2 linked regions of the Homo sapiens genome follow. The protein of the gene in region 2 interacts with the protein of the main gene of each other region in a pairwise test. Each region holds a gene or a part of one and is shown on either strand. Other genes may lie near its edges.

Region 1 (7,203 bases), on a different chromosome or scaffold from region 2:
CACCACAGGCTCTCAGATTTTGCCAGATGCAGTCTGTGCAGGTTGGGGTGGAGCACTGACTCATGTAACAAATGATGAGCATCTGCTATGTGAAGTCAGCTACCTAAACAGACAAAAACCCTGCCCTGCCAAGAATGGTGGCTCACATCTGTAATCCCAGTGACTGGGGAGGCCGAGACACAGGTGGATCACTTGAGCCCAGGAGTTCGAGACCAGCCTGGACAACACAGCAAGACCTTTCTTGCTACAAAAAATAAAAGTTGGCTGGGCGTGGTGGCTCACGCCTGTAATCTCACCACTTTGGGAGGCTGAGGCAGAAGGATCACTTGAGGCCAGGAGTTCGAGACCAGCCTGGCCAATGTGGTGCAACCCTGTCTCTACTAAAAATACAAAAAATTAGCCGGGCGTGGTGGCGCGCACCTGTAATACCAGCTATTCGGGAGGCTGAGGCAGGAGAATGTCCTGAATCTGAGAAGGCAAAGGTTGCAGTGAGCCAAGATTGTGCCACTATACTTCAGCCCGGGCAACAAAGTGAGATTCCGTCTCAAAAAAAAAAAAAACAAACAGCCTAGCTGTCGTGGTGGCTCACGCCTATAATCTCAGCACTTTGGGAGGCCAAGGCGGGCAGATCACAAGGTCAGGAGTTCAAGACCAGCCTGACCAACATGGTGAAACCCTATCTACTAAAAATACAAAAATTAGCTGGGGGTGGTGGCCCACGCCTGTAATCCCAGCTACTTGGGAGGCTGAGGCAGGAGAATCGCTTGAACTGGGGAGGCAGAGGTTGCAGTGACTACACTCCAGCCTGGGCAACAGAGTGAGACTCCATCTCAAAAAATTAAAAAAAAAAAAAAGAATAGGATACCTTTCCTCTTTCGCTTCCTGCTAACACACAATAAGGTTTTTCTGCTTTACTTTGCATGTGGGCTGAAAGGTCTCTCCCTCCTACTTTGGGGATGCTAAGCTAGCCCAGGTGTGACTTTGGCCTTGGGGGTGGAGTATGGGGGGAGGGAACACAGGAAGCTAATGGAGCCATCCCTACCTCCTCCTCCCCCAAAGCCACCAGCAGAGACTGGATCTTTAAAAAGCAACAGAAGCCTGGGAAGTAGGTCGCCCTGCAGCATCTCAGCCTCTATTCTAGTGTCAAGAGGCAGGAGAGGCTGAAAGTCCAGGCACATCCCTTTACAGTACTTACCTGCTCTGACCTGAGAAAAGTCTGAAGAGGGAGGAGAATCATATCCAGGTTTTGGTGAGTCACACAGCCCTGGCTTCTGACTATTCTAGTGCCTGTTGACTGTGTGATCTTGGGTAAGTCACTTAGCTTTTCTGTACTTCAGGTTCTTCATCTATCAAATAGGGGTAAAATAAAGAAGCATCTCTAGAGTCAAGTTCTAAAGTAAGGGCAATATTCATAGAATCTAACCCTGCCATTGTTTAAAACAGCTAGTGCTTTCCAGGGTGAAGAAGTTGGCTTGCGTTTGGGGACTGTGTTAAGTTAGTTGAAGTGCTGACCTTTGAACTCGGGGGACAGTGTGATGAGAGGCTTGGGAAGGGAGGCTGCTGTAAATTGAGAACACGTTTGTCTCACATTTCAGATTCGCGGTTGGACACCAATTCTTTTTTTTTTTTTTTTGAGACAGAGTCTCGCTCTGTCGCCTAGGCTGGAGTGCAGTGGCGCGATCTTGGCTCACTGCAAGCTGCGCCTCCTGGGTTCACGCCATTCTCCTGCCTCAGCCTTCCGAGTAGCTGGGACTACAGGCGGTCGCCACCACGCCTGGCTATTTTTTTTTGTATTTTTAGTAGAGACAGGGTTTCACCGTGTTAGCCAGGATGGTCTTGATCTCCTGACCTTGTGATCTGCCCGCCTCGGCCTCCCAAAATGCTGGGATTACAGGCATGAACGTGAGCCACCGCGCCCGGCTGGTTGGACACCAATTCTGTGAGTTTCTTTTGGCACAGAGAGCTTCTAATTGAACTAGGGTAAGTTTGCCAGGCATAGGGCTGTTGTGAGATTTGCATGAGATAACATTTGGCCTTTTTTTTTTTTTTTTTTTTTTTTGAGACAGAGTCTCGCTCTGTCGCCCAGGCTGGAGTGAAGTGGTGTGATCTTGGCTCACTGCAACCTCCGCCTCCCGTGTTCAAGCGATTCTCCTGCCTCAGCCTCCTGAGTAGCTGGGATTATAAGCGCAGGCCACCACTCCTGGCTAATTTTTTTGTATTTTTAGTAGAGACAGGGTTTCACTGTGTTAGCCAGAAGATGGTCTCAATCTCCTGACCTCGTGATCTGCCCTCGGCCTCCCAAAGTGCTGAGATTACAGGCATGAGCCACCACATCCGGTATTAATGAGATAACATTTGGAAACCACTTGACATGCAGTAGGTGCTTAAGAAATAGGAAAAAAGGCCAGGCATGGTGGCTCATGCCTGTAATACCAGCACTTGGGGAGGCCAAGGCAGGTGGATCACCTGAGGTCGGGAATTCGAGACCAGCCTGACCAACATGGAGAAACCCGGTCTCTACTAAAAATACAAAATTAGCAGGGCGTGGTAGCACATGCCTGTAATCCCAGCTACTCGCGAGGCTGAGGCAGGAGAATCACTTGAACCCGGGAGGCAGAGGTTGTGGTGAGCCGAAATTGCACCATTGCACTCCAGCCTGGGCAACAAGAGCAAAACTCCACCTCAAAATAAAAAAAAAAAAAAAAAAGGAAAAAAGGCCAGGCACGGTGGCTCACACCTGTAATCCCAGCACTTTTTGGGAGGCCAAGGCGGGCAGATCACAAGGTCAGGAGTTCAAGATCAGCCTCGCCAATATGGTGAAACCCTGTTTCTACTAAAAATACAAAAATTAGCTGGGTGTGGTGGCGGGTGCCTGTAGTCCCAGGTACTCGGGAGGCTGAGGCAGAATAGCTTGAATCCCGGAGGCGGAGGTTGCAATGAGCTGAGATCCCACCATTGCACTCCAGCCTGGGCGACAGGGCAAGACAGTGTCTCAAAAAAAAAAAAAAAAAAAAAAAAAAAAAAAAAAAAAGAAAGAAAGAAAGAAATAGGAAAACTGGGCCGGGCACAGTAATCCCAGCACTTTGGGAGGTCGAGGCAGGTGGATCACCTGAGGTCAGGAGTTCAAGACCAGCCTGGCCAACATGGCAAAACCCCATCTCTATTAAAAATGCAAAAAATTAGCCTGGCGTGGTGGCAGGCGCCTGTAATTCCAGCTACTCGGAAGGCTGAGGCAGGAGAATCGCTTGAATCCGGGGGCGGAGGTTGCAGTGAGCCGAGATTGAGCCATTGCACTTCAGCCGGGACAATGAGAGCAAGACACCATCTCAAAAAACAAAAAAACAAAAAAAGCCAGGCGCGGTGGCTCACGCCTGTAATCCCAACACTTTGGGAGGCCAAGGCAGGCAGATCATGAGGTCAAGAAATCAAGACCATCCTGGTCAACATTGTGAAACCCCATCTCTATTAAAAAAAATTAGCCGGGCGTGGTGGCGCATGCCTGTAATCCCAGCTACTCGGGAGGCTGAGGCAGGAGAATCGCTTGAACCCGGGAGGCGGAGGTTACAATGAGCTGAGATCGCGCCACTGCACTTCAGCCTTGTAACAGAGCGAGACTCCGTCTCAAAAACAAAACAAAACAAAACAAAGAAATAGAAAAACAAAAACAACAAAACAACAAAAACCCAAAACCTTGTCCTGATTCAACACTCAAATTCACCAGCTGGAGAGGAAGAAAAAATTCCGTGACCACACAAGGGCCAACAATGTGGACCACACATGCAGCAGGGGCTACTTTGTTCTGCCCCAAGGCTTGCGGAGGGCCGCTGAAAATTTGCCATATTATATGAAGGGGGTGAACCTTAACAAATTGTCTCCTGCATCCCAAACTCGCTCCCCATCTGATCTTTATCTGGGGCAGCCCCCAAATTTGACCAGAAAGCTCTTATCGTTCACACTCGCTCCAGGAACCCCCAAATCCAGCCCCAGCTCCCCAGTCTCACTCTTCTGCTCCCCATGCACCTCGGTTGGTCTAGAGACCCTCCTGCCAATTTGAGTCTCAGCCAAAACCCCAAAGCGCGGCGACCCTGGCGCATGGCAGGACGGGATTTGTAGTTCCAGGGCTTATCGGAGGGTGGGGGAGAGGGAGGCCTTTACGCATGCCTTGGTGGCGGCTTTCTGCACGTGTTTCTCAGCCCAGGTTTCAGTCCAGCGGAACTGGCTACCTCGGAATCCCAACTGCTCCTTTAGGGTGTCTTCCGCGATTCTCCGAGTGGAGTTAGGCGCCTGCCGACACTTCCCTAACCTTGGAGGCCCGGGACTTGATTTTCATGAATGAACGGAGCCGGGACTGACTTTGCCTACGGCAAGTGGGTTGAGATAGCTGTTCCCCTCCTTCAGGCAGGGGCAAAAATTGACCTCTGCCTCTCTCGAGGGTCAAAAAGTTCCTCAGGGCAGGGTGGGTTGTTCTTTGGGATTAGAGCTGGTGAATTCATTAAATATCGGCTTAGGGAGGGGCTGAATACAGTAAAAGAACAGCCTTGAGCCTTGGAGGGTAAAGCCACGTTTTTAAGGAACAATTCAGAGCTGGCCAGGTCATGCTTAACTTGGATGATCTCTAATCGCGCGAACTGCTCTTATACCCATTTGACAAGTGGGGAAACTGAGGCTTCAAGTGGCAGGAGGTCTCCCACTTTGTTATCGGCAGGGCAGGGAGGGGAAACCAAGACGCTACAGGGTCTCCAGCTTTTTACCATCTGCTCCTCTCTCAAGAGAAGGAAAAACGGTGCCCTACTGTCTTCAGACGTCGCAAGGATCAAGAAGATTTCTTTCTTCATGACCCTGCCCTTGCCAGAATTTCCTGCGCTGTTCCACCTCATTCAACTTCAGGTAGGGAAAGGGATTAGGCGTGGTTCAAAGTTTATTTTATTAGTTCATTTCGTTTTATTCAAAAATTTATATCCTTGTGGCTTTTTCATCTCCTTGTAAAAACTATCAAACAGTACTGGAAAATAATGCAAAAAGTGGCAGAGGCTTCTGTAGGAACCCGGCTTGTCTCAGGCACTTACTTTGTCCTGCTTTCTTTCCTTTGTCTCTGGGGTATAAAGAGCACGCTCAGCTCTTTCCTTGCGCACACACAGCGTACTCCTCCCAAGTACCTCTGGATGGGGGAAGGGAGGCACATTTCAATTTTTAGTGGAGGAAGGTGACAAGGAGGGTGCTGGCTCTGGCCGAGGGGTTCCTGGATCCATCACACACAAAGTCCCCACGCGCTACCAAACTCCTGGCTCCAGCTAAAGAGCTTGCGGTCAGGTCAGTGAAAGATGCTGGGAAAACGAGACACTGGGAGGACCGGCTGGCTAGAGAGGCCAAAGAAACGGCAACTCTTTGGTCACGTGACCGGACCTTGTCTCAGCCCGGGTTTCCCAAGTGCCAGGGCACGTGTGAAGGTTGAACCTTCCGATTGGCTCGGCGGGACCAGTTTGAACGGAGTACGGGAGCCGCGGCGGCTCACCTACGGCCGCGTTTTTCTTTTTTTTTTTTCTTTCTTTCTTTTTTTTTTTTTTTTTTTTTTTTAATTCTCTCTCTTTGGCTCCCTCCTTCCGCGCGAGTCTCTGGAGAAGCCGCAGCGCGAGTTGCCGCCGCTGCTGCCCGGGGCCGGGTAAGTGGGCCTCACTCAGAGCCCGACCCTCTTGGCCCCGGCTTGCGTCGACCCCCGCCGGGCACCGAGCCTGCGCCGCGCGCGGCCCGGGCGTCGGGGCCGCGCCCGACCGGGAAAGGCCGGGAAGCCGGTTGGGCCCGATCCTCCTGGCAGCTAGAACGGGCCGGGCGGGGGAGGGGGGAACCGAGCAGAGCTTAGGGGGTGGGGCCTCGGAGCCAGGCCATGTCGGGGCTCCTCAAGAAGAGGGCCAGTGGGACTGCTGGGGTCGGGCTGGAGGGGATCTGATTGGGGGAAGCGTCTGGGGACTGCTTGGGGCCTGATTGGGGGACGTCGCGAGGATCGGGTGTGTGTAGGGGCCTGTTTCGGTGGGGCTTGGTTGGGTCTGATTGGGGGAGGCCGCACTGAAAAGTTGAGCGGGGTGGGGGGAGGGGAGCTCGTTGGGTCCTGACAGGGAGGGGCGTCAGACTTCGGCCTAGAGGGTTTTCTTGGATCTGACTTCGAGGCGTTGCTGGGATCCGTTGAGGGGAATGCCCCGGGGGGTGTTTACCCAGGCCGAACTGGGGGAGGCTGCAAGGATCGGACCAGGGGGTTACTGACACGAGGTGGTGGGGGGCTCGGCCGAACTTGACTGGGAGAGGCAACAGAGATCCGTCAGCAGGGGTTACTGCTGACAGGGTCGGAGGGAATTTCAGGGAGAGGCTTGGCCAGACCTGATTGGGGAAGGCGACTGGGATCGGTCCAGGGGGCTCCTATAGTGGGTTGGCCGGGCTTGGCTGGCTCTCATTCGAAGAGGCAGCAGAGACCTACCTGGGGACTGCTTTGGGCCTGATTAAGGGGAATCCTTAGAATTTGGCTAGGCCACAGAGGGGGATATCTGGCATCCACTGAGCTTGAAGGGCAGGAACAGGGGACAGGAGAGATCAGGACGATCGTCTTGGGAGGGCGCATCTGGGGAAGCTCAGAAATTGGACTAGGGCAGGAGGCCTCTGGGATCTGGCAGAAGTTAAGGGCAGAGTGTCGGGGGAAGGGGACTCTTCAGGGACTGTGCCTGCATAGAAGAGACCACGGGGGCCGGGGCGCTATCACGGTCTGGGGCGGGGCCCCTGGATGTGGAGGCGGCTGGGCCCTCGCCCAGCCGCTGCGAGGGAGGTGGAAGCCTTCGGGCTCGGAGCCGGGGTCAGCGGCATGGGCCACCCTGGGACGAGGGCTCTTCGCTGGGTCCCATGAGGATCCGCCGGGCCCCGCCGCCGCCGCCTGTGGCCCGTTTCCACATCCCCCCTCCCGCGCTCCCGAGCCCGCGACTGCGCGGCCGAGGATGGCGCAGCTGGCGGGGACCCCGCACTTGGGCGGGCGTGGATCGGAGGCCTCCGCCTGTCCGCCGAGGGCGTTCCCGTCGTCATGCGGCCACCGCGGCCTCAGGGGCTCCACCTGGGTCTCACACGGAGCCCCAGAGACCCAGCGCTGACCCCGGCCCCTACCTCCGCAGCTTGCCTTGCGCCATGGACTGGCAGCCAGACGAGCAGGGCCTGCAGCAGGTCCTGCAG
Region 2 (7,469 bases):
CTTCTTTTTTTAAACAACCACACAGGATTCCAACACAGGGCTTGCCATTATTTATTCAGCATTTTCACCCTTTCTTGCAACTGTCAGTCTCCTGCATGAGTAGGGATCATATCTCAGTGATCTCTGCATTCCTGTCTTCTAAAGCACAGTTCTAAACAAATTGCTCTAAGAAGTGTATGATGATATGACCCCTGCCCTTAAGAATGTGTTCCTATTGAGTCTTCCTGGGAATTGGGAGCATGTCATCAGGGGGTGAGGAGGTGAGTAGTTGTATGTCTAGTAGGGGGAGTGGGAAGGTGAGTTCTACCAGAAATCGAGGACATGATTCTTTACTTCCAGAAGCCATGAAGAAAATGATGCTTTTTTTTTTTTTTTTTTTTTTTTTTTCTCAGAGACAAGGTCTCACTCTGTCTCCCAGGCTGGAGTGCAGTGGCACAATCATAGCTCACTGCAGCCTTGACCTCCTGGGCTCAAGCGATCCTCCTGCCTTAGCCACCCAAGTAGCTGGGACTACAGGCACATGCCACCATGCCTGGATACTTTTTAATTTTTTTTTTTTTTTGGTAGAGATGGGGTCTTGCCTCATTGCCCAGGCTGGTCTCAATGATTCTCTTTTACCTATGGAAAGAGAGGGCAAGAGACAGATTTATCTCTTCATAGAAAGGCTTTTCCCAGAACCAGTGCCTCCTGATTACTAAGATTGGGACTTTTGGTCTCCGTCAGCCAGGCAGTGCTGGTGCTTTCCTGCCCTGATCTGGGTCATTATCAGCTGCTGCCCTCCTCACAGGAGCAGTACATGTCTTCCCAGTGGGCAGGAGCAGCCAGGAGGGGGAAGGTGGATTTTACTTTGATCTTGAAGGATTGGGAAGACTGTGCCTAGCAATGGTGAGAGTAGGGGTAGTGAGGGAGCTGGGGAGGAGCCTTCTTGGGGACAGTGGCTGTGATTGGAAGCTAAGGATGAAGTCATAGGAGCTGGCTCTGCCTATTCCATCACCAGGATGATGTCTAACCCAGAGCCTGCCCTGCTGATGAGAAAGTCCATGGGCAAGGATGCTCTGGGAAAAGTTCTAAGTTTCCAAACCCCAGGCTCTATCCCTGCAGCTCTCAGCCATAGTTTTATTTTCCTTGAGATGATCTATTAATATTTCTAGTCTCCAAAGTCAAGCAGACAGCCTGCTGGACCCTGTCTAGAGATGGCTCCCTGGCTCTGGGGTGTTAGGGATGACATTCTTCATGGTCCCATGTGGAGGAGCCTGGATTAAGCTCACATCCAGAATCAAGACATCGGCTCTGGGCTGCCTGAAAGATGGCGAGGATTTGCCCTGAGTGTTGAAGGCTCTAACCCAGTGGCTTTCCTTCCTAGTCTTTGGTCACACCCCCACCACAGTCCTACGTGGCTCAAAGACCAAGGATCTAAACCCAGTTGTGAGCCTACTCCTCTTTTTGCAATTATAGTGTTATGCCTCCTCCCTTTTGCACAGAATTCTACAAACTTAGGTTCTGAAAGACATTTGGAGGTCCTACAGTCTCCAGTTTGTCATGCCTTGGGGAAGTGGTTCTCAAAGTGTGGTTCCTGGACGGGTAACACCAGTATCACCTGGGAAATTGTTAGAATTGCAAATTCTTGAGCCTCACCCTGGACCTCCTGAATCAGAAACTCTGGGGGTGGGGGCCAGCCGTCTGTGTCTTAACAAGACCTCCAGGTGATTGCGATGCATGCTCCAGCTTAAGGACCACTGCCTCTGTGCAAGACTGCCCTGAACCAGAGGGTTGAGAATTTGACCAATGTTGACTTTCTTCTGGAAAGGCTATTCCATCTCCTCACTCAGGTATACCCTCAGGCCTCACCAAGACTCTTTGCTTTCTGGCTGACGTAGATCCCTCTTCTTGGCACATGCCTATATGGGTAGCAATGGGGGTGGGAGAATACTTTGTTGAGTTGCTTTCTCAGCCACCTTCGCGTGTCAGCGTGGGGGCTCTGTTTCTAGCAGGTAGCAAACTTCTTTCCCAGTTCATGTGGGTTAGCAGTGGGGTATACTCAGACCATCTATATTCTGACAACTGACCGAGTAACCCTTTCTGTTTTTATGGATCTCAGATGCACAGACTTAGATTAATCCTAATTCTTGGCTCATGCCATATGTCATTATTGGACCATTCATGGTTCACTTTTTTTGCTAATTTATATATTAATTATATATAATTATATTATATATTAATATAATGAATATCCATGAACTCACCACATAACTCAGCAACTAGAATATAAATTAATTACTATTAACTAGAATGTAAATAGTAACTAGAATGAATTAATAAATACTAACAAAATAAATTAATAAATACTAATAAATTTATTAGTATTACTATTAGAAGGTAAATACATTAGTTAATATTAAAAATAAATTGTTTTTAACTAAAATATAAATATTGACTAGAAAGACATGGTAATAACTGTAATATAATTATAATTAAATGTAAATCAATTAATGCATATTTGCATTAATTTGCTTACACTTATTGATTCGAGCTATGCCCTGACTCAATGACTGAAATGCTGCCAACACCTCTGCATCTTCCTGGATGCCCCACCCCATCCCACCTCCCGTATCGCCTCCAGATGAACATTATCCTGAATTTTGTGTTCCTTATTCCCTTGCTATTTATGAAAAGTTTTATCACATGGATGTGTGTGCCTAAACAAGGTATTGTTTGGTCTCAGCTGTTTTTGAACTTGATGCAAAGTGTAGCCTGCTGTGTGTGGTCCCTCTGCATCAACCCCCAACTGAGTCTTCTGTTCTCAGCCCAGTGGTAGCGCGCTCTGCGGGCCACTTAGAAACACATCCCATACCGCACAGCCTGAAAAATGATCCCTTCTAATGACTCTGACGTCTCTGCAGCTCCAGGCAGAAGCTGTCACAAATAGGCACAGACAGCCAGGGTTCCAGGCTGTGGCAGCCAGTGGGCACGGTGCCCCCCCCACCACAACACATCCTCAGTGGGGTGGGGGTAGAAGTGGGAACTGGGGCCCCTGGGGCTGCTGTGTAATCCAGGAAAGCCAGGTAGCAGGTGGAAGGGCAGGAGCCCCAGCAGAAGCAGGCCTGGGTGCAAGCCCTGGTTTTTTCAGGTATCAGCAAGGTAGGCAGATCAGACATTGGAAAGGACTTTGGGCAAGTTTACTTTCTGCGCCTTGGGCTCAGGCAGCTCCTTTCTGCCATTGACATCCTGTGACATTGAGTCATTTTCCCACATTAAAGAAGCTTCTTGGTGCATAGTCCTCAATTCTCCAAAAGGCCTATGAATTCTCTAGAGAATATAATTCCAAACTTACAGCTAGAAAAATTATATCCCAGAAAGGACGACCAGCCACTTAGCCATTGGTCAGTGAGATGGGAAGCAGGATTCCATTCCCTTTCCAAAAGCACCAGGAAAACTCTGGTGAGAGGCCAGTCCCTGCCATTTGTACCCTCAGCTCCCTGTGTTCCCAAGCCCCATCCTTGGTCATAGTGCCCACCCTACTTCTCACTATTTGCCTGAATGTCTTCTCACTGAGGCTGTATGATCGGGGGAGGAGGGGACAAAGTGGTGTTCATCCCGTTTGCTGTTCCCCAATTCTACAGCCATACCCGGCCTGTGGCAGGCATCCTAAGTGGAAGTCTGTGGAATGGTGAATGAATGCACTGCACTAGGAATGCTGCAGGCAGTACTGGTCATGCTCACTTCAAAATGTAGAAGAAAAGCTGCCTAAAGCCTAGAATCAGAGAGACTGTGATGGGGAAGGGAACTGTGGGAGGGAGAAAAGGGGTATGTGGGGCCAGAATGCTAAGAGCAGGGAGGCATCTTCAGAATGGGGAAGGCTGAAAGCCAGTTGTACAATCTGGATGGTCATAGATGGGGTTGGGGCAGGGGAAGGGAAAGCTTTCCTCCCTGACAAGGAGAACTCTAGATGTTGTCCACAACCCTTTCCTGAGCGCCCACCCTTGTGCACGGTGACATTCTGGATGTTTTCCAAGACATTCTCCACCAGTAGAGAGAGGCGGCATATCTTTGCAGACCAGAGCCATAGTTGATGGACTAATAAAATCATATACCACTCTAATGACCAAAGACTTGCCTGATGCAATGGCTTAGTAAGTCCCTAACATGGGCCTAATATGTTTTAGGTAGGGTGGCCATGTAACGCATCTTTCCATTAAGGACACGTATGCAGGTGAAAGGGAGACCTATTAATCATTATGCCAGGAAAACAGATGTGAACTGGAACTGTCCCAGGCACAGCAGGAGGTTTGATCACCCTTAGTCTATGATCCTTTCCCTTTCTCATCTCATCTCATCCTCACAATACGTCAGGAGGTGAATATCATGAGCCATATTCTGCAGATGTGGAAAAGGAGCCCCAGGTCACATCGCATGTCAGTGGCAAAGTGGACACTGGACACGGGGCTATTGTCACCTAATTAATGTCTTTCCCACTCTACCTTCCCAAAGGAGGTCAGGAGATGCACTGCGATTCAGCCATGGCTGTGTGTCTACGTCACCTGCCCCTCCACGCCCCCCAGAATTACTGACTTCAAATCTCTTGGAGTAGAATCAAAACATTGACTTTTACTCAGCTTCTCCTGGGCACTTTGATGGAGAATCAGGATTGGGAAAACTGGTTTAGACAATTACTCCATGGCTAATGGGCCCATCATGGAAACGAGATGTTTATGGATGTTCTTAACCCTTTGATGTTGATATCAAGGAAAATAATCATCTTCCTCCAACTCAAAGTCGGCATGTTTTGGGGACTACCATCAGAGGCAGACCCCATGGCTGACAAATCTGGGCCAGGAAGTCTCTGGGGGTCTCATAAGGCATCGGATTAGGTGACAGAAGGAGGCTGCTTGAAATCCCTTTGCCTGAAGGTCTTTAGGAACAGGAGAGAGACACCTGTCTGAGCTGGTGTAGGTGGAAGTGGGGGCGAGAGTGCTGTCAGTCATACACTGACAGTCTCCACACATAACCAGGAACTATCTTTTGACTATTTAGAGGTAGCTGGGAGAGATGGTTGTTGGGAGCAGGTGGACTTTGTCTGCAGACAGCAGTATGCCCTGAAGGCCAGAAAGGCTGGATGTGTTCAGGAACCCAGGCAGGGTCTGAAAGGGATAGACTGCACATTCATGATCCTCCTTCCCTTTCCAAATGTGCAGGCTGCACTTTCTCCCCATGACCTTGAGTTTGCATCGATTTCCCAAATGCACACACGGAGGGCTACTTGAGTCTCTCTCCAAACCACTGACATTTGATCAAGCCAGTTCATTGTGAAGGGCAGAGAAAGACAGACTCTTCAGTGCTGTTAAAATTGGCCTTGGGGTTTTGAAAGCTCTTAGAGGTCACCTGGTCTGAGTCAGTGCATGATCAAGCCCCAGTTGGCGCTGTGTGAACACCTGCCAGGGTGGACCTCAGGTGGCTCATATGATTGTGGGACAGCTCTAATTCTTGGTAAATTAAAAATCTGCCTTCTAATCATGCCTAGTGACTAGCCTTTGTTCTGCCCCCAAAGCCATGATAAGGCCACATGTAAGTCTTTCCATGTGACAGCTTTTGAAGTGTTTTGAAGACCCTTATCTTATCCCCAAGTCTTCTCATCTTTATCCTTAGTCCTAAAAAAAAAAAAAAAAGAAATCCTGGTAGAGGAATGCAACAGCCCAAACCAAGAGGAACTTCCTGTAATAAGATGGGTTCTTCTGCAGTCTGTAGATTCCAAAGGCCCCCAGGGTAACTGGAGTACATTGAACTCCAGTACGAGTACATTGAAGCACTACAGACATTTGCTCTTTGGGTTCTTACCATCATTCATTTATTCAATACTCGTAGATCTACCAAGCACAGAGGCAGGCACCGAGGAAGCAAGGCTGGCCCGGTCCCTGCCCTCATGGAGCTTGCAGTCCATGGAGGATGCAGACAAACGGGGATGGGGGGAAGGCATTTATCTTGTGTGACAGGCACCGCAATAACAGGAGCTCAGGGTGCCTTGGGAGCTCTCAGTCCAGGTTTTGCGGGTCAGGCAAGGCTTCCCAGAGGAAGGATGAGGAAGAGAGAGGCTGGAAAGGAGGGAGAGGAAGGATTTCAGAGACAGCTGCTGGCAAGGACGGTGGCCTCTGAGGCAGAACTCCTCACATTTAACTGGAGAATATATCGTGTGCTGAGAGGGGAGGGAAGAGACTCAATGGCAGATATGGGGGAGGCGCAAGTACCACTATGGCTTTGGGTCATACAGGATGAATGAGCTGTGGGCCAGCATTAGGGCTGTGGAACAAGAACCATCCCTCATTTCTTTCTGATCTGGTTAGGAAGATACACCTGAAACCCTACAGCAGGTCTGGGCCAAGGTGCTAGGTTTAGTTCCCCGTGCACAGAGAAGCAGGCAGGGAAAGCTCTTTTTTTTTTTTTTTTTTTTTGAGACAGGGTCTCACTCACTGGTTTGCACCCAGGCTAGAGTGCAGTGGTATAGTCACAGCTCACTGCAACCTTGAACTCCCAGGCTCAATGCATCCTCCTGCTTCAGCCTCCTGAGTAGCTGGGACCACAGATGTGTGCTACCACACTCGCCTAGTTTTCTCATTATGTTGCCCAGGCTGGTCTTGAACTCCTGGGCTCAACCAGTCCTCCTGCCTCAGCTTCCTGAGTAGCTGAGGTTACAGCTATGAGCCACTATGTGTGCCCAGCAGGAAAAGCTAGTTGTAAGATTGAGGACCAAGTACCTGCCATATCAGTGGATCTGGGGAAACTGGTTTAGCTGTGGAGTTTGCATGAATGATGTCATTTAAGGGGAGATAGGAGGGCCTACTCTACAAATCTCTTCCCCATACTGTCTGAAGATCTTCATTCTGTTGAACTAATTAAAAACAGCAGCATGTTCAGATGCATGTATGTCCATGCATTTAGTGGGTGACAGGGTATTCCTCATCCATCCCTTGCTATGAACTTGTAGTATCGGGTTGTTTGTCTTCTGATCCCCAGCACTGAGGAGATGGGGATGTGATGGGAGGAGAGGCCACTGGGACTGAGAGGGAGTTCTGATGGGGCTTGGAGGAAGGCTATAAGGACTATGCACCTGACCCAACAAGAGTACTGGGGTGGGTGGTTTCAGTGAGTCCCAGGGGAAGCCCAGCAACTTCTATGCAGGGTCCCAGCCTCATCCCTTTGGAGACTTCGTCTCTGACTCTTTCTTCCCACCTCCCCTGTTCTCTCACCCCTCAGCCCCTGATGCTCCCTACACCCACTGGAAGCAGACCGTCTTCTACTTGGAAGATTACCTCACTGTCCGGAGGGGGGAGGAAATCTACGGGACCATATCCATGAAGCCAAATGCCAAAAATGTGGTAAGTGCCGAGGGACATAAGGACATAAGGGAGAAGGGCCCCACAGAGCTGGCTCGCTCAGGACCCACTTGCCCGGGTTCTTAAGTGTCTCATGAACAGTCA

The links. Proteins that work in one complex are often made in the same cells at the same time.
Region 1: the proteins of PRMT8 (region 2) and TNPO2 interact in binary tests that used the Homo sapiens proteins (3 or more experiments, as listed by UniProt).

The regions. Positions count from the first base shown.
Region 1 is NC_000019.10:12,720,933-12,728,135, reverse strand, and holds the start of TNPO2 (transportin-2), read left to right. Parts: upstream 1-4,203; 5' UTR 4,204-4,367; intron 4,368-4,770; 5' UTR 4,771-4,887; intron 4,888-5,575; exon of another isoform or gene 5,576-5,659; intron 5,660-5,876; exon of another isoform or gene 5,877-6,002; intron 6,003-7,145; 5' UTR 7,146-7,158; coding exon 7,159-7,203. UniProt on the Homo sapiens protein: Probably functions in nuclear protein import as nuclear transport receptor. Serves as receptor for nuclear localization signals (NLS) in cargo substrates.
Region 2 is NC_000012.12:3,584,986-3,592,454, forward strand, and holds part of PRMT8 (protein arginine N-methyltransferase 8), read left to right. Parts: intron 1-7,245; coding exon 7,246-7,367; intron 7,368-7,469. UniProt on the Homo sapiens protein: S-adenosyl-L-methionine-dependent and membrane-associated arginine methyltransferase that can both catalyze the formation of omega-N monomethylarginine (MMA) and asymmetrical dimethylarginine (aDMA) in proteins such as NIFK, myelin basic protein, histone H4, H2A and H2A/H2B dimer.